4 linked regions of the Homo sapiens genome follow. The protein of the gene in region 3 purifies or fractionates together with the protein of the main gene of each other region. This does not show direct contact. Each region holds a gene or a part of one and is shown on either strand. Other genes may lie near its edges.

Evidence for each region. The genes of interacting proteins can lie anywhere in the genome.
Region 1: the proteins of SH3PXD2A (region 3) and TBC1D25 purify together in Homo sapiens (affinity purification with mass spectrometry, with the first as the bait; one large-scale study listed by BioGRID). This does not show direct contact.
Region 2: the proteins of SH3PXD2A (region 3) and MIB1 purify together in Homo sapiens (affinity purification with mass spectrometry; one large-scale study listed by BioGRID and IntAct). This does not show direct contact.
Region 4: the proteins of SH3PXD2A (region 3) and RAB3IP purify together in Homo sapiens (affinity purification with mass spectrometry, with the first as the bait; one large-scale study listed by BioGRID). This does not show direct contact.

The regions. Positions count from the first base shown.
Region 1 is NC_000023.11:48,542,037-48,547,189, forward strand, and holds part of TBC1D25 (TBC1 domain family member 25), read left to right. Parts: intron 1-2,832; coding exon 2,833-2,987; intron 2,988-5,153. UniProt on the Homo sapiens protein: Acts as a GTPase-activating protein specific for RAB33B. Involved in the regulation of autophagosome maturation, the process in which autophagosomes fuse with endosomes and lysosomes.
Region 2 is NC_000018.10:21,746,615-21,751,767, forward strand, and holds part of MIB1 (E3 ubiquitin-protein ligase MIB1), read left to right. Parts: intron 1-5,153. UniProt on the Homo sapiens protein: E3 ubiquitin-protein ligase that mediates ubiquitination of Delta receptors, which act as ligands of Notch proteins.
Region 3 is NC_000010.11:103,610,370-103,615,522, reverse strand, and holds part of SH3PXD2A (SH3 and PX domain-containing protein 2A), read left to right. Parts: intron 1-2,332; coding exon 2,333-2,670; intron 2,671-3,892; coding exon 3,893-3,942; intron 3,943-5,153. UniProt on the Homo sapiens protein: Adapter protein involved in invadopodia and podosome formation, extracellular matrix degradation and invasiveness of some cancer cells. Binds matrix metalloproteinases (ADAMs), NADPH oxidases (NOXs) and phosphoinositides.
Region 4 is NC_000012.12:69,818,183-69,822,255, forward strand, and holds part of RAB3IP (rab-3A-interacting protein isoform alpha 1), read left to right. Parts: 3' UTR 1-4,073. UniProt on the Homo sapiens protein: Guanine nucleotide exchange factor (GEF) which may activate RAB8A and RAB8B. Promotes the exchange of GDP to GTP, converting inactive GDP-bound Rab proteins into their active GTP-bound form.

The DNA.
Region 1 (5,153 bases), on a different chromosome or scaffold from region 3:
TTTTTTTGAGATGGAGTCTAACTGTCACCCAGGCTGCAGTGCAGTGACATCTCCCAGGTTCAAGTGATTCTCCTGTCACAGCCTCCCAAGTAGCTGGGACTACAGGCATGCACCACTATGCCCGGATAATTTTTTTTTTTTTTTTTTTTGAGACGGAGTTTTGCTCTTGTCCCCCGGGCTGCAGTGCAGTGGCGCAGTCTCAGCTCACTGCAACCTCCGCTTCCCGGGTTCAAGTGATTCTCCTGCCTCAGCCTCCCAAGTAGCTGGGATTACAGGCACGCACCACCACGCCTGCTAATTTTTGTATTTTTATTAGAGACAAGGTTTCACCATGTTGGTCAGGCTAGTCTCGAACACCTGACCTCAAGTTACCTGTCCACCTCGGCCTCCCAAAGTGCTAGGATTACAGGTGTAAGCCCCCGCACCCAGTCCCAGATAGTTTTTTGATCTTCTCTTTTTTTTTTTTTTGGAGACAGAGTCTCACTCTGTCACTTAGGTTGGAGTGCAGTGGTCCGATGTTGGCTCATTGCAGCCTTTGCCTCCCGGGTTCAAGTGATTCTCATGCCTCAGCCTCCAGAGTAGCTGGGATTACAGGTGTGCACCACCACACTCAGCTAATTTTCATGAGGTTGGTCAGGCTGGTCTCAAACTCCTGATCTCAAGTGATCCGCCCACCTCGGCCTCCCAAAGTGTTAGGATTACAGGCACGTGAGCCTCCGCACCCGGCCAATTTTTTGTATCTTTAGTAGAGACAGGGTTTCGCCATGTTGCCCAGGGCAGTCTCAAACTCCTGAGCTCAAGCAATCCGCCCGCCTCAGCCTCTCAAAGTGCTGGGATTACAGGTGAGCCACTGCGCCCAGCCAAATGCATTGTCAACTTACAGTATTTCCAACTTACGATGAGTTTATTGGTACATAACCCTGTCATAAGTCAAGAAGCATCTGTATTGTCATAATTGTTCTATTATTGTTAATCTCTTACTGTGCCTAATTTATCAATTAAACCTTATCATAGGTATGTATGTATATGAAAAAAAACATAGTATATATAGGGCTTGGTACTATCTGCAGTTTCAGGCATCCACTCGGGGGGGTCTTGGAATGTATCCCCTGTAGATAAAGAGGGACTACTGTATTTGGAAACATCTAGTCATAGGATAAATTCCTAGCAGTGGTATTGCCAGGTAAAAGGGTATTTGCTTTAAAAAAAATTTTTTTTTTGAGACAGTCTCATTCTGTCGTCCAGGCTGGAGTGCAGTGGTGTGATCTCGTCTCATTGCAACCTCCACCTCCTGAGTTCAAGCAATTCTCCTGCCTCGGCCTCCTGAGTAGCTGGTACTACAGGCGTGCGCCACCATGCCCGGCTAATTTTTGTATTTTTAGTAGAGATGGGGTTTCACCGTGTTGGCCAGGATCGTCTCGATCTCCTGACCTCGTGATCCACCCGCCTCAGCCTCCCAAAGTGCTGGGATTACAGGCATGAGCCACCGCACCTGGCCTGCTTTTTGAACTATTAATGGGTGTTTCCAAAATGCTCTCCAGACAGGTTTTATCAATTTATGATCTCAGCCGGGCGCTGTGGCTCATGCCTGTAATCCCAGCACTTTGGGAGGCTGAGGCAGGTGGATCACGAGGTCAGGAGATCAAGACCATCCTGGCTAACACGGTGAAACTCCGTCTCTACTAAAAATACAAAAAATTCTCCAGGCGTGGTGGTGGGCGCCTGTAGTCCCAGCTACTTGGGAGGCTGAGGCAGGAGAATGGCATGGGCCCGGGAGGCGGAGCTTGCAGCGAGCCGAGATCGCACCATTGCACTCCAGACTGGGCGACAGAGTGAGACTCCGTCTCAAAAAAAAAAAAAAACGAATTTATGATCTCATCAGCAGCACATAAATGCCTGTTTCCCTCACACCCTCGCAAACATTGGTTACTGTAAAACTGCAAAATTTGCCAATCTGATAGCTGAAAAGTGGTGTCTCTTGGGGGCAGATGTGATAGTCATTTTGTTGTGATTTTGGAGGAATACATACACATGGTAAGAAATTCAAACAGTACACAATTGTTGGGTATTTAGGATGTTTCCATGGTTATGATGAGCATCACGCAACAAACTTCTTTACATAGTTGCACAAGTATAGCTGAAAAATTCTTAGTTGTTATTAGACTTTCTTACATAAACATTTTTGTTGTGAAAAATAACAAACACAGATTGCTTTTTTTTTATGTAGTAAGAAGGCTGCTTTCTTCCCACTTCTGTCCCACATCTACCCCAGAGGGGACCAACTTTTTTTTTTTTTTTTGAGATGGAGTCTTGCTCTGTCACCCAGGTTGGAGTGCAATGCCACAATCTTGGCTCACTGCAACCTCCACCTCCCAGGTTCAAGCGATTCTCCTGCCTCAGCCTCCTGAGTAGCTGGGATTACAGGCACCTGCCACCACACCCAGCTAATTTTTTTTGTATTTTTAGTACAGAAGGGGTTTCACCATGTTGACCAGGCTAGTCTCAAACTCCTGACCTCAGGTGATCCACCCACCTCGGCCTCCCAAAGTGCGGAGATTATAGGCGTGAGCCACTGCACCCGGCCAACATTTTACCAGTTTCCAATGTGACCTCCAGATACAAGCAGGTGTGTACCTGCTTGTATGTGTTTGTGTAACAAAGTGGGTATAAATGACCTGATCTCAGGCTGCCCATAATCCTTGGCACAGTACCTTGCACATAGTAGGAAGTTGTTTTCAACGCCTTCTATATTACCCTCCTTGTTTTGGAAACTGTCCCTGAGGCCTCCAGGGCACCAGGGGCCCTGAGAGCTCCCTCGTATCCCCTGTCCAGGAAGAAGAACTTTGGCATCAGCTACCTGGGCCGGGACCGGCTAGGACAGGAAGTTTACCTCTCACTTCTATCTGACTGGGACCTCAGCACAGCCTTTGCCACTGCCTCCAAACCTTACCTGCAATTGCGTGTAGATATTCGGCCCTCGGAGGACAGTGAGTACTCAGTGCCCCCAGGAGCACTGCTCTGGAACCCCTTTACCCCATAGGGTGATGCTACCCCTCACAGTACACTCCCTCATGGTGGGATGGGTAGCAAGGTATCCTAGCTATAGATCCTGGCTCAGCCACTAGGCCACAATTTCTTCACTTGTAAAGAGATAATTGTATCTTAGAACCATTGTGAGGCCTTGTATCTTAGAACCATTGTGAGGGGAAATTCATATAAAATGCCTGGAACAGTGCATGACTGCATAATGAAGGCTCAGAAAGTGTTATCTCTAATAATGATAATTATATTGTATTATACTATTATAACATATAACCGAGTAATGTATGTAATAATTAGATATAATGCAGATTTATAATATAGTATAACGGTATAGCTTTAGCATTATGTATTTCAGTTATAATACCTAAATATAACAATGCGTATTATAATAATGCTAGTTGTGTTTATTCATTCAGTCATTCTGCACCCATATTCATTTGTTTGTATTCTTGCTCACTCATTCATTTGTTCCCTTGACCTCTCAGCCACTTTTTCTCTTCTCATCTTTGTTCTTCCACTCTTGCCTATTCTGGTCCCTGCGAGCACACAGATAAATTAGGACGTGGTCTCAAAATTTGATTACAGACCATACATTAGATAATTGTATCAGTATTAAATTTCCTGGGTGTGTGTCTTAGTCGTTTTGTGCTACTATAACAGAATACCACAGACTGAGGAATTTGTAAAGAAGAGAAATTTATTTCTCACAGTTTTGGAGACTGGGAAGTCCAAGATCAAGGTGCTGGCAGGTTGTGTGTCTAGTGAGGGCTTTCTTGCTGCATCCTCACATGACAGAAGAGCAGAAGAGAGTGAACCCACACCCTCAACCTCTTTATAAGAGCCCAAATCCGCTGGGCACGGTGGCTCATGCCTGTAGTCCCAGCACTTTGGGAGGCTGAGGCAGGCGGATCACCTGAAGTCAGGAGTTCGAGACCATCCTGGCCAACATGGTGAAACCCTGTCTCTACTAAAAAAAATACAAAAATTAGCCGGGTGTAGTGGCACATGCCTATAATCCCAGCTACTCGGGAGGCTGAGGCATGAGAATCGCTTGAACCCGAAAAGCAGAGGTTGCAGTGAGCCAAGATCTTGCCACTGCACTCCAGCCTGGGTGACAGAGCGAGACTTCATCTCAAAAAAAAAAAAAAAAAGAGGCTGAGCACGGTGGCTCACGCCTGTAATCCCAGCAGTTTAGGAGGCCGAGGCGGGCAGATCACAAGGTCAGGAGATCGAGACCACCCTGGCTAACACGGTGAAACCCTGTCTTTACTAAAAATACAAAAAAATAGCCGGGCGTGGTGGCGGGTGCCTGTAGTCCCAGCTACTCGGGAGGCTGAGGCAGGAGAATGGCATGAACCCGGGAGGCGGAGCTTGCAGTGAGCCAAGATCGCACCACTGCACTCCAGCCTGGGCAACAGAGCAAGACTCCATCTCAAAAAATAAATAAAATAAAAAATAAAAAAAGAGCCCTAATCCCATCTGTGAGAGCTCTACCCTCAGGACTTAATCACCTCTTAAAGGCCCCCACCTCTTAATATGATCACATTGGTAATTAAATTGCAACACATGAATTTGGAAGGACACATTCAAACCATAGCAGTGTGGTAGTGGTATCATATCTATTGAAGGAAAATATCCTTGTTCTTGGGAAAGACACAGTTAAGTATGAAGGGGTAAAATGTCATGATGTCTGCAAATAAGTTGGCAAAAATAATGTGTTTATATACAGAGAGAGTGAGATAAAGCAAATGTGGCCCAAAAAAATGTTAATAGAGGATCTAGATGAAGTATGTATGGGTGTTCAGTGTATTCTTTTAACTTTATTGTAGGTTCAAAATTGTTTTAAATAGTTGTGGAGTGGAAGATGTGGTTCCCAGCCTCAGGAAACTCATGTGCCCATTTGGGATGAGTCGAGCACTTTATTGATGTCATAATAACATATAACTAGCTAATGTGTAGTGAACACTTAGGGCCATTCTGTGCACATAATATTTTTTCACTGAATTGTCAAAATAATCCTATAGAGTAGGGACAATCATTTTCCCCATATTATAGATGAGGAAACTGAGGCTCAGAGAGGTGACAGGACTCGTCCCAGTTATACAGACAGT
Region 2 (5,153 bases), on a different chromosome or scaffold from region 3:
TTTTATTTATGCTTGCTTTGTGTTCACTTGACTACAGTGTTGTATTGTTACCAGAGATAATGGAGAAAATGAATGTAGATTTCCTGTTAAGGTTCTGTCATTCTTCGTGTCGATAATACAGAGTTAGAGGTATAGAAAATCAGCTTTATTCAAAACCAGCTTCTGGTCATAGTTCATTCAAACTGTTTTGGGGGTAGTTCTTTGTCCTTGTCTTTGACCGCTAGCAAAGAATGCCTCTCCAGTCATACGTGGAAAAACTTCTCAGATGTTTTGTATTCAGTTGAAGGTTTAAAAGGGCTGACCCTGGATTAAAAAAATGAAATGAATTAATAATCCTCAGCTTTTCTTTATCAGAATAGAGTCCCCTATTCTGATCTGTTTCTAGAACCACAGTAGAAAGGGGTATTTGTCAGGACACAAAGCCGTAGGAAAAAACAGGATTTGAGGGAACAATGTTTGGGGAGCAGGATGCCACACCTGGAAAGGATGAAATATCACAAAATGTTTTTTATTAATGACATCTGCAAGGAAAACTTTATTTCCTCATAGATCCTACCTATTTTAAAGGCTTCTGTAAAATGTCTTTCTTATTTTATTTCCTCCACTAAAACAATGTTGTAAATTATGAAAGTCTATCTAGTTCTTAATAGTCCCTGTAGATTGCAGCTTGGTTGAGCTGAGGACTTCAAGAAATCAACTAGTAGACCCCTGTGTCAGTACTTCTCAAACTTAAAGCACACAGATCACCTGGGGACCTTTTAAAATGCAGATTCTGGTTCAGTAAGTTTGGGATTCTGCGAGAGTATTTCTAATAAGCTCATAGGTGATGCAGATACTGCAGGCTCAAGGACACACTTTGAATAGCAGAGTACTAAGTGACTATTTGTCTACTTGAGATGCCCTGCGTTTCTGTTTTCTCCTTTTCCTTTCAACAGATTCCAAGCCTTGATTGTTTGTTGGTAATACATGTCTTTAAAACTAGATTGGCATTATTAGTTGGGGAGAAGAGAAGTGTGTACAACTGAAATAAAGGAGCATGTAACACCTTTCTAATATATGTACTTTTTGTAAGTGTAATGCTATCTTAATGTGTATTTTCGATCCTATACTTTCCAGCCTGTCCCTCTGATTAGATTAGCTATTTCTTTTTGAATGTGTTCCCAGGTAGCCACCCACCAGGGTCTCTCCTCCACCCTCTATAATTGCTAGCTAGTGTGATATCCCCACATGTGTGCTTTCATCTGTTAAAGCAGGGTATGCTGTGTTGTAATTGTCTTTTGCACTAGATTATTAGTTTAAGGGAAAGGGTCTGTGTTATTCTTGTATCTCCATTTTCTAGCAGAACCATGTCTCTGGATGAGTATTTTCTGAATCAGACACACTTTTCAAAGAGCTTTTGACTCATTGGATCAGAGATTAGATAGATATTATCCTAAAACAAGATAAAAGGAAACTCAGATTCAGAGAGATTAAGAAATTTGTCCAGTCACAAAGCTGGTGAGTGGCAGATAGTAGGGATGAATGCCAGTTGATTGCTTTTCCTCAGTATCATTCTCTTTTTCTTTTATAGTATAGTGGTTCAGAAACATGACCACCTGTAACACTTTGCTTGTGGGAAAATTGATAATGAAATGTAAACCAATTTAGAAATGAAACTTTGTGATACATCCTGTTGTAAATTGTTCAGTGCTCTTTTCAAAACCATTCTTTTTTTGCTTTGCTTTGCTTTTCTTCCTCTCTCCCTCCCTCCCTCCCTCTCTCCCCCCTCCCTCTCTCCCCCCTCCCTCTCTCCCTCTCTCCCTCTTTCCCCCCTTCTCCCTTTCTCTTCTTTCTTTCTGGAGTTTCACTCTTGTCCCCCAGGCCAGAGTGCAGTGGTGCAGTCTTGGCTCACTGCAACCTCTGCCTCCTGGGCTCAAGCCATCTTCCCACCTCAGCCTTTTGAGTAGCTGGGACTACAGGTGCGCACCACCATGCACAGCTAATTTGTGTATTTTTTTGTAGAGATAGGGTCCTGCCGTGTTGCCCAGGTTGGTCTTGAACTTGTGAGGTCAAGTGATCCATCTGCCTTGGCCTCCCAAAGTGCTGGGATTACAGCTGTGAGCCATCATGCCCAGCCTTTTTTTTTTTTTTTTTTTTTTTAAAGAGTTTCACTCTGTTGCCCAGGCTGGAGAGCAGTGGTGTGATTATAGCTCATTGCAACCTCGAATTCTTGGGCTCAGGTGATCCGCCTACCTCAGCCTCCCGAGTAGCTAGGACTATAGGTGCACACCACCAAGCCTGGCTAATTTTTTTTTATTTTTTATTTTTCTTAGAGTTGAGGTCTTGCTGTATCACCCAGGCTGGTCTCAAACTCTTGGCCTCAAGTGATCCTTCAACCTCAGCATCCCAGATTGCCTGGATTACAGGCATGAGCCACTGAGCCCTGCTTGTTTCTTTCTAGTGTGTCTTTTTTGCACAGCTAAGGTTTTACTGTATACATAGTTTGTTTCATTCTTTTTTTTCCACTTGACGTGTGTTTTCTGTATTCCTTATAAATAATCTAATATGTACTTCCTATATGGTAAAATAAGGTGACATTTATGTCTTAACTACTTAGAGAGAAATATATATGTATTTCCATATAGGTATGCCATATGTACTGTTCTTCAGCTTTCTTTTTAAATGAATATTGTCTTGGACATCTTGCAGTGTTAGCACATAAGAATCTGTCTTATTCTTTTTGGTCGGTACATAGTATTTAATAGTTAAAAAATATATTACTTAACTATTCTTTTGATAGACATTTATAGTGTTTTCTTTTTTGTCATTTTAAACAACACTGCAACAAGTATCTTTGTGTATACATACCTTTGTGTACTAATTTTTAGCTTTTAAATTAATTTGTTACAGGAATTTCTGTTATAAATGACATGGCTAAATATTGTCCTCACTGACTTTGAGAACATTTGTCTTTTAATAGAGGAATTTAACTTGTTCATATGTATTGTGACAACTGATACATTTTTTCTAATTACTGCTACCTTACTCTTTTTTTTTTTTTTTTGAAATGGAGTTTTCCTTTTATTGCCCAGGCTGGAGTACAATGGCGCGATCTTGGCTCATCAAAACCTCTGCCTCCCAGGTTCAAGTGGTTCTCCTGCCTCAGCCTCCCAAGTAGCTGAGATTACAGGCATGCCCCACCATTCCCGGCTAATTTTTTGTATTTTCAGTAGAGACCGTGTTTCCCCATGTTGGTCAGGCTGGTCTCGAACTCCCGACCTCAGGTGATCCACCCACCTCAGCTTTCCAAAGTGCTGGGATTACAGGCATGAGCCATCACACCTGGCTGCTACCTTACTTTTTAACTTTCCAGTTTTCTTGTATTTTTTTTTTTAACCAGTGAGTTAGAAATTTTATCACCTTTTTTTCTGCTCTGCTAATTATTACCTTTTAATATTTAACAAACAGATTGAAAAATTAGGTTTTTTTTGCATGTAGAAAAACTAAACAGTCTCTTTAATTACTCCTGCCCATACTTCTTTCTTTATTTTTTTGAGGTGGAGTCTCACTCTGTTGCCCAGGCTGGAGTGCAATGGCATGATCTCAGCTCACTGCAACCTCTACCTCCTGGGTGCAAGCAATTCTCCTACTGGGTGCAAGCGATTCTCCTACCTCAGCCTCCTGAGTAGCTGGGATTACAGGCGGGTGCCACCATGTCCAGCTAATTTTTGTATTTTATTTTTATTTTTTTTGAGACGGAGTCTCGCTCTGTCGTCCAGGCTAGAGTGCAGTGGCAAGATCTCAGTTCACTGCAAGCTCCGCCTCTCGGGTTCATGCCATTCTGCTGCCTCAGCCTCCTGAGTAGCTGGGATTACAGGCGCATGCCACCATGCCCCGCTAACTTTTCATATTTTTAGTAGAGACGGGGTTTCACCGTGTTAGCCATGATGGTCTCCATCTCCTGATCTTGTGATCCGCCCGCCTCGGCCTCCCAAAGTGCTGGGATTACAGGCGTAAGCCACCACGCTCGGCCTAATTTTTTGTATTTTTAGTAGAGATGGGGTTTCACCATGTTGGCCAGACTGGTCTGGAACTCCTGACCTCAGGTGATCCACCCGCCTCAGCCTCCCAAAGTCCTGCGATTACAGGCGTGAGCCACTGCGCCCGGCCATCTCCTGCCCCACACCTCTTACCTTTTTCATTGTGTTGGTTTTATGTAAATTTTCAGGAAAATTAGTCCCAAATTTTTGTTTGCATTGTCCTTTCTCCCCAACCATACTCCTGTAAATATATGCTTCTTTTTATGTTGTAAGATTTGCTCAGCTGGGCACAGTGGCTGACGCCTGTAATCCTAGCACTTTGGGAGGCTGAGGCAGGCAGGTTGCTTGAGCCCAGGGATTTGAGACCAGCCTGGACAACATGGCAAAACCCCATCTCTACAAAAAAATATAAAAATTAGCCCACCATGGTGGTGTGTGCCTGTAGCCCCAGCTATTTGTTGGTGAGGCTGAGGCAGGAGGATCAGTTGAGCCTGGGAGGCAGAGGTTGCAGTGAGCTGAGATCATGTTACTGCACTCCAGCCTGGGTGACAGAATGAGACCCAGTCTCAAACAGAGGGGAAAAAAAAAGAAAAGAAAAAGATTGGCTCATAAAATTGCATTAAACGTCACAGTTATTATTATTATTTTATTTATTTATTTATTTTGAGACATAGTCTCTGTTGCCCAGGCTGGGGTGCAGTGGCACGATCTTGGCTCACTGCAGCCAAGTGATTCTCCTGCCTCAACCCTGCAAGTAGCTGTAACTACAGGTGTGCATCACCATGCCCAGCAAATTTTTGTATTTTTAGTAGAGATGGGGTTTCACCATGTTGGCCAGGCTGGTCTCTGGAGCTCCTGACCTCAAGTGATCATCCACCTCTGCCTCCCAAAGTGCTGGGATTACAGGCGTGACCTGCCACACCCAGCTCACAGTTATATTATTAATAATTAATTGGATTTAAAATTGTAGTTCTTTCTTATTACTGCTGCTTATACTATATCTCATGTCATTCCCTTCTCATTTTATTGGGGGAAAAATCCTTTCCCCTTCCTTTCTTTCTTCCCTTTTCTTCCCTTCTTTTCTTTCTTTCTAGTAGTTTGAGTCCTTGCAGGCCTGAAAATTGCTTTATTTTG
Region 3 (5,153 bases):
CACACACACACACACACACACACACACACACACACACACCCTCGCACTCTCCATCGCGCCCTTTCCAGCTTGCTTCCCGCTGGAGTCATTTCATTCTCCATTGCTGGAAAGCAGATGTGAGCAGAGCTGGACCCAGACACACACAGGCACTCCTGATTCCCTTGCGTTTCTCCTCCTGGAATCTTAATTTTACCCATGTAGTGCTGAAGGAACACAAATACAGCACTCGGGGCCCTAAGCAGGCCTGACCGTCACCTCCATGAGCCCCCTCTCCCCATAGCTCTACAGTGTCCATGTAGAAAAATCGTCAGTGAGGGCCAGTGGGCTCATCTTTGTCTTTTCTCTGAGATGCAAGAGCACCAGGCTCTGGGCCAGATGCTGCTAAGCGCTCACTGTGTGACCCCCTTGCTTTTCTGAGCCGTAGTTGTTGGCTCACATAAGATTAGGTATTTTTACTCGTTGCTTCCATCCACCCTTAAAATTCTGTGCTTCTGTTTGCACCCATTGCATCAGGGAGCCAAAGACAGGCCCCTGACTCCCACCCACGTGTTAACTCACCTCTGCCTCCCAATCCCTGGGGAGGCGAGCTTGGCTCAGCCTGCCTGCATGTTTCTGTGACAGAACGTAAGGAGCCACCTCCTACCTGAGCTTTCTCGCAAAGCTCAGACATGTTGATAGGAACTTCAGCTTTCATATTCCTTTTCTCCCACCTAATGAGCGCCCAAGAACAAGGTCAGATCAGGAAGACGGTGGGCGGGGCGGGGGGGGAGGTGTTCAGACATCTGGTGTGGAGGAGCCATTCCAAAGAGCCAGATGTGTCCAGGGAGCAGATGGGGACATTGCAACCCAGACTTGGGGGCACTGGCCAGCGACTACTGGACCAGGAAGTGAAGTCCCCATGGGTTTGGGTGAAAACTCAACACCACGAGGAAAAAAGGAAAAGCTTGTTTTCAGAAGTCATCGAATCACCAGAAATTAAGTCAGCCCTATCATTTGCCTTTTGCCTTTGTTTATGAGCTTTTGGTTTTGTTTCCTTTTGTTTTGTTTTGTTTTTGTTTTGCTTTGGTTTTAGTTTTATCTAGTCATGTGCTTTTGTCTTTTCACTTATGGTTTCTGCTTTTGGAGCCCCACTTAGATTTTCTCAACCCCCAACATTATGTCAATCTTCTATTTGTTAATTCTGCTATATGGTATAAAGCCAGTGTCTGTCTTACTTGTTTTTCCTAACTGGGTCATCAGTTTTCCCCAAATCACTTTTTACATTTTTGGAGGCAGGGTCTCACTCTGTCTCCCAGAGTGGAGTGCAGTGGTATGATCATAGCTCACTGCAGCTTCAAACTTCTGGGCTCAAGCAATCCTCCCACCTCAGCCTCCCAAGCACCTGGGACTACAGGTATGCACCATCACACCCAGCTAATTAAAAAAAAAAAAAATTTTTTTTTGGTAGAGATGAGATCTTGCTATGTAGCCCAGGCTGGCCTTAAACGATCCTCCTGCCTCAGCTTCCCAAAGTGCTGTAATGACAGGTGTAAGCCACCTCGCCCAGCCCCAAATCACTTATTGAATAATGCATCTTTGTTCCACTACAGTAAATTTAGCCTGGTTTGTGAACTTGGTCTGTGACAGTCTATAGAGGATCCACCTACTCTCCCTGCAGTGGCACCACAGCTGTCCCATTCAGTCATCTGGCATGGAGGAGCCATTCCAGCTAAGATGTTGGAGACAGCTTAGTTGATCTCAACATGTCTGTCCTTCTGGGTACATTTTTAGCAGCGACTCTATCCCTGCATCTTGCAAAAGAGACACAAACTGAGCTCCAGGGAAGGGACTTGTGCAAGGTACCACAGACTAGAACTCAGACTGCCTGACTCTCACCTTCTGGAGTCAATTCCCTCTCTAATAATACCTCCCCTTCCTACAGGCCATTTACCTCTACATACCACATCCACACCTTCTTCTTATCTCTCTAATTATCCTCAACTGACTGGGAAGTAGCAGGCCATTATGAAGTCCTCCTTTGGGCAACCCAAAAGTTGATAAATCTGATCCCAAGCTCCCACATTTGCCTGACTTTGCAGAACATGAGAGCCCACCCCAAGAGGGATCAGGCAAAGAAAAAGGAGCATGGTGGGGGGGCAGTGGGAATTGGTGTTCTGGGTGTCTTTTCCATCTACCCTCGGTGCCATTTCTCTCCAGAGTAGTGGGATTGCCAAGCCTTGCAGAACATGGTAGGGAAGGCTCCACTGGGCAAGGCCAGATGGATCCTAGGGCCTGGGAGTGGGCTGTGAGGTCAGAGTGCTCTAATGATAGCACATCCTGCTCCTCCCCACAGATACCTGGGCAAAGAGGGCTGGGCGCCAGCATCCTACCTGAAGAAGGCCAAGGATGACCTGCCAACCCGGAAGAAGAACCTGGCCGGCCCAGTGGAGATCATTGGGAACATCATGGAGATCAGCAACCTGCTGAACAAGAAGGCGTCTGGGGACAAGGAAACTCCACCAGCCGAAGGCGAGGGCCATGAGGCCCCCATTGCCAAGAAGGAGATCAGCCTGCCCATCCTCTGCAATGCCTCCAATGGCAGTGCCGTGGGCGTTCCTGACAGGACTGTCTCCAGGCTGGCCCAGGGCTCTCCAGCTGTGGCCAGGATTGCCCCTCAGCGGGCCCAGATCAGTAAGAGCCTCGCTGACCTCTAGGTCCTCACTGCAAAGCTCCTTAGAGAATGGGCATGGGTGCCGTGAAAGCCAGGGGGGTGCACAGGACCCCCATGGCGTTTTCCTCCTGGGCTACAGACTGGCCTTTGACCCTCACTCTGTCAACTTGTGTCATGCTCATCACAGGAGTGGAGAAGGCAGAGGAGTATGATGACTCAACTGCTCCCAGCTGCTCCACGGAAGCTAGATCACATGAGGATGTGGGTGGTAGCGTTCCCTCCTCTAGTGGAGAGCCAGCAATGGTCACTCTGCAGATACACGCGTTCCAAGAGCAAGAAATGTTTTCTTTTCCTTATGGTAAAGGCTTTATAAATCAAGATAGATGATGTGTAGCTGACTTTTAAAAAATCAAAAAAACACATTTCCCTGGGCTGTTGAATGTGGGTGCTATATGCAGGGCTGCCCTATGGAGTGACAGTCTGTAGAGAAACGTCTTTCTGGGCCTTAGCAGCTCCTTCCCTATGACTTTCCACTCGTTACTGGAAACCTAAGAGACTTGGGAGCTAAGGCTTTACCACTCTACACAGGCAGTTTCAACAGGGCGTTCTTCAAGAATCATCTTCATTTCTACAGGAGACTCCAGGCAGTCTGGCACCCTCCATCTCTGGCCCAATAATGCCTTTTGTTGAGGCTTAAAACTTCCATGTTATAGGAACCTAGCTTTTGTTTGTGTCCAGCCATTCTTAAAATCTGGAGGAAAGCTGTTTCTTTAGTTTAGCTCCACTGGGTTAAGTTAGCTCTCGTGCCTGAAATCTTTTAGGGAACCAGCTGGGAAACAGTTATTGGGCACCTCCTCTTGCCTGGCATTATGCTAGCTTCTATGGATTTAATAGTAAGCAAAAAACAGACATGGTCTCTGCTCCTAACTTTGAAAACCTGATAAATCTATACACCCGTTACCCTGAAAAATGCCCACATAGCTGCACATTTTGAAAAGTGCACATAATTTTAGAGTGTTCATAGATCCCCTGGAAGCACAGCCAAGGTAAAGGTCTATAGTTTCCCCTTGAAAAAGCCCAACCACAGTGCCCATAGTGACTTAGAGTGTCAAGTCCTTCATAAAGGCTGAGCTAAAGCATGAACTTGAAGGATCAGGAGTTAGTTTCACCTAGGGAAGGCAGGTATGGGTACTGTTGCCCATCGTCTGACTAGGATTTCTGAAGCCATGTCTCTTCCTCTAGGCTCCCCGAACCTACGGACAAGACCTCCACCACGCAGAGAATCCAGCCTGGTATGTGTACTGAATTTCTTCTCCCCTTTCCTTCCTTTTCTGTGAATGCGCTATAGCCACCCGATCAATTGGCTATCTTGCGGCAGAGCCTCTTGATCCAGGGGTTTTCCAGAGCCCTGCTGGGGCTTCTAGTTTTGTGGGGCTAGGGGCAGGGAGGGAAGCCTGCAGATCCCAGCCTTCCTGGAGGCCTGGCTGGACAGTTTATAATCGGAAACACACTGCACTCCAAAGCTAAATAAATCCATCCCAGCCACTGCATTGGCAGACATAAACATTTAGACTGCCCGGCAAAAGTGTCCAGCCAGGGCATTGCCAGAGGCTGGAAATGGGGCTCCTGTCCATGCTAGCCTGGAAGCCTTTCAGCTTTCCCTGGTCAGGAATGCCCAGTGGAGGTGGTGGATGGCAGAGTCTGGGAGGGCAGAGGGCAGATCAGTGAACGTCTTCCAGGGAGGAGTGTGAGTTGCAAGGAGTGGCTCACGCCCCAGCTTTAAGAGGTTAACACTGCCAGGGTCCCTGGTTCATGTGGGTGGGGTTTCCTGGTGTCCAGACCCTCGGGCAGGTAGATACGCATCAGGGGCCAGGGCTTGGGGTGCCTGCGATGCTGGTGGCAGGCTGAGAGCCTTGGAACAAAGAACTGTTAGTAAGCGCAGTGGGATGTAGTGGAAAGAGTGTGTCTTCAAGTGCCAGGCATGGATTCGGATTCCACTTCTGACACTTAGAGGCGGAGAGACTGTAGGTAAGCCAGTTGCCCTCTACAAGCTTCAGTGCCCTTATTTATCAGACGGGACAGTACTAGCCATCTCTTAGGGCTGTTGTAAGGATGAAATGAGATGATTTATGTGGGGGGCTAGCAAACAGGTTTCCATTTCCTATGTCAGCTCTTGCCTGCTTGGTAATACTACCTGGTGCACTGGGTTAAGGAGGATTCTGAAGTCACATCTGGGCTTAGCAACAAGAGTTACTGTGGTCAGTGACATCAGCCCTGGCTAAGGGAGATGGCACCAGTCTATGGAAGAGTAGGCCCTCCATAAAAATATGGTTTTTAAAGATTTCATCCCTGGAGATGAGACCTTCCTTGCCTTGGCCATGGACCCCAGTGGAGTTTCTCTTTTTCCTCCTGAGTTTTACACACCCAAACACTGAATTCTCCCTCTCAACCATCTCTCCTAGCCACGGCTAATTATTTTCAGGCAGACTTGATTTTGGCAAGA
Region 4 (4,073 bases), on a different chromosome or scaffold from region 3:
TGGCTCATGCCTCTTGGCTTTGGGAGGCCAAGGTAGGAGGATCACTTGAGCCCAAGAGTTCAAGACCAGCTTGAGCAACATAGGGAGACCACATCTGCACAAAAAGATTTTTTTGAATTAGCTGGGCATGGTGGTGCATGCCTGTGGTCCCAGCTACTTGGGAAGCTGAGGTGGAAGGATTGCTTAAGCCCAGGAGGTTGAGGCTGCAGTGAATCATGATTGTGCCACTGCACTCTTACCTTGGGTGACAGAGTAAGATCATACCTTAAAAAAAAAAAAAAAGTATACCCATGGGTCAGCAATTTCACTTTTCAGTATATACTTGAGAAATGCTTGCACAGGTCCCCCAGATCACACATATAAGAATGTTCTGGAATAAATTAAAATGTCTATTTTTAGGAAGGTGTAATGTGTTCACAGAATGGGTGATTATTACATGGCAGCAAAATGAATGAATACCAGCTACTTGCAGCACAATAACTCAGAATGAAAAAGCAATTCTGAGAAAACTATATGTGACATGATACTTTTCTTATAAAAGTCAAGAACAACTAAAACTGAACAGCTGTTTAGGCATTGACATATGTGACAAAACTTTTAAAAAGTAATAAAGTTCAAGATAGTGGTTACCTCTGGAGAGGTAGAGGAGGAGCAAATCTATGAGTAAGTCACTGGTAATGTTTTAGTCCCTGGGTTAGGTGGTGGGTTTTGGGGTGGTTCATTTGTCATTAAAAGTAAGTACATGAGCTGGGTGTAGTGGTGCGTGCTTATAGTCCCAGCTACTTGGGAGTCTGAGATAGGAAGATCCTTGAGGCCAGTTCAAGGCTATAGTGTGCTATGATTTCACCTGTGAATAGCTACTATATTCCAACCTGGGCAACGTAGACCTTGCCCCCCTTTAAAAAAATTCAAAAACAAAATAAATGCATGGACAAATGAATAAGAGAGTTATGCATGGAACATCGGTGGTGTATTATGAATCAAGCATTATTACTAGCTCAGTTATATGTGCCTTCATTCCAAAACAAAAAATAAAAGGTAAGAAAATTGTTGAATTGCATTTGAGAGAGAGGAAAGGAAAGAATTCAGGTCTGAATCTTAGGCTTTTGGCTTGAGCTATTGCAGTTTATTGAGATGGGGAAATACATGGTGGGGAAAGTTTGGGTATGTGCATAACAGAGACAGAAATTCAGTGTTTGACAGATCAAGTGTGAGGTGCCCACTGAGCATCAAAGTGGATATGTTAAGCAGGTATTGGATGTACAAATCTAAATTCAGTAAGGTCAGTCCAGGAGAAAATTTGGGGAGTAGTTAGCCATGGGATCAGATGGGCGCTTTAGGGACACTTTGGAGATGAAGTACAGCACTGAGCCCTGAGTTCCTGTGACAGAGAAGCAGCCTGCAAAGACGAAAGGAGGAGCTGTTAGGAAGAGCAAGGCAACAGAAAAGGAAGAACCAGCATGCTGATTATGTTCAGGAGAGTGTTTCTACGCTGAATTTAATTGCCAAGATTACCAATTCTAAAGAAGAGGAGGACTCTTGGACAAGTTTTTAGAAGTTGGTTTGGAGCTGGGGTGAGAGCCTGGCCTAATGGAGACAGCTCTGGATTGGGAGTCACTTAGACCTACATTCTGGTCTAGGTTTGGCTCCCAAAAACTGGGAAGGTTAGTTAGGTGGCCACTCCTCTCTCTTCATGGTCTCTCTCAGCTTGAAGACAATTTACAGTCTTTGACTAAGCATCCACACTGGAAGAACAAGATTTGGTTTCTGAACATTGGGTCTTAGTCCTTAAAATAACTTGCAACCTGTTACGTCTTCACTTACTCCCATCGCCACCACAAGAATCCTGTGTGTTTTTGTTTTGTGCATCCAGTCTAAAACGGGTCTGCTTTTATTCATAGGCTTTTGTTTTCAGTGGTTTTTGTTGTTGCATTTTTCCCTAGATAAAATGTTTTTTCTATAAGACACTGCTTAAAAGAGTCCAATGCAGTATGAATTTGTATTTGTGTTTAACTTTTGTGCTTAACAGATCTGCCATGGCTGAACTCTCAGTTGCTTAAGCAAAATTCTGGGGCTTATTCTAGGTTCCTTTATTTGTCATTGTCACTCCCATTCCAGTTATCAGCAAATTCCATCAGCTGTCTCCGAGACATCTTAAATCTGTCTACCTCCCTCCATGTCCACTGCTACCACTCTGCCCAAGCTATTATCATCTTTCACCTGAACTCCTGCACTAATGTCTGCTGTCCTTGCATCCACTCCTGCCCTCCTACAATCACTGACGGCAGCCGCAGGGATCTTTATAAAACGAAAATCAGATAATGTCACTTCCCTGCTTAAAGCCCTTTGAGTGGCTTCCCATTGCACTTAGAAAAAAAAAAAAAAAAAAAAACTGGCCAGGTGCGATGGCTCATGCCTGTAATCCCAGCACTTTGGGAGGCCGAGGCGGGCGGATCCCCTGAGGTTGGTAGTTCGAGACCTGCTTGGCCAACATGGAGAAACCCTGTCTCTACTAAAAACACAAAATTAGTCAGGTGTGATGGCGCATGCCTGTAATCCCAGCTACTTGGGAGGCTGAGTCAGGAGAAACGCTCGAACCCAGGAGGCAGAGGTTGTGGTGAGTTGACATCACGCCATTGCACTCCAGCCTGGGCAACAAGAGTGAAACTCCGTCTGAAAAAAAAAAAAAAAAACCCAAACTCAATAGAAAATCAAGTTTTCATAGTGGTAGTTGTTAACAGAGAAATAACAATGAAAGCTTTAAAAAACTCCATGAAAATTTGCAAAACTTAAAAAAAAAATGTAGAAGAGGACTAAACTTGATAAAATATTAAAAGAATTGAAACCCTTCCTAAAGGCAGCTTCTCAAGGGAGCACAAGTTCACACACAGTTTACTTTTGGAGGAACGTCTGAGGTCATGAGGACTAGATTCTAGAGCTACAGGTCTCAGGGACAGTCTCGAGGGATACAGGGCCCCCATCACCACATCCCCAGATTTAACCGCAGCAGCTCAGCTTTTATCTGTATCTGTTGGAGCTCTCTAGGAAATGTCAATACCAAAGCAAACCCAAATCACAACTAGATTAGATTACTATTCAAGAGAATGATTCTCTACCGAAACTCTGCAAAATGGGGATATCAAGAGAGTTGGAAAATGTAAGACGTAAAGACCATAATCAGGAAAATACGCATCATATTTGTTATTCACTGAGAGGGAGGAATTTCCACTTAAATCCTATTTCCAGCAGCTGGATTGTGCTCTCAGTGGAGTGCTCTGGATTCTGATTAATAGAGATTTTCTAGTCCTCCCAGCAACTTCCTTCTCAATTCTCTTCACTTTCCGCAGATCTCGGCACCAGGGTTGCATCTTGTGGGCTCCATTGTGTTTTCACACAATGTGCTATTTGTCCTTCACAGTGTTTTGGTTTATTTTTCTGTTTGTCCATCTTGTTTTTGAACAATTGCCAGCATTTAAAAATGAGGAAATCTAAAATCTGCATTTCAAGCTGCTCTTTTTTAAAATGTGCCGTTTCGACAACACTGAGCCCACAGTCTTGAATGACAACACTTGGGTGGAGCTGAGTGACTCCACCTGTCGGGTGGCTACACCCTTGCTCAGGGTATGCACTCCATGGTTTGCTCTATGGCCCACCATCCTGGATTGTCTCCCTGACACCAAGGCTAAGGGACCCACTTTACTCACTTATCTGCTGGGCCTTGGAAGTATTTCAGTTCGGAACCCCAATTCTAACCTTAGCTTCTCAGGCCATTAAATGAAATCTCATTTCTATGATGCTTCCTGTCACATCACTGTGCTGCTGAGAACATGAAGTCTGTGGGTGAATTGGTGGACGGGATCCAGAATCATTACTTGGCAGTGGATTATAGTGTGATGACTCATTTCCGGTGGTCTCCAGGAGACTTGGCTGGGAGCTTCTCTTGGAGTCTAGGGTTAGCCAGAGGCTACATGTTTTAGGCATCTTAATTCATATTTTATCTAAAGGCATATAAATCCTTAAAAAAAATCATTTGACTTCATCCTTGCTCCCTACATCCAGCCAGTAACCATTGC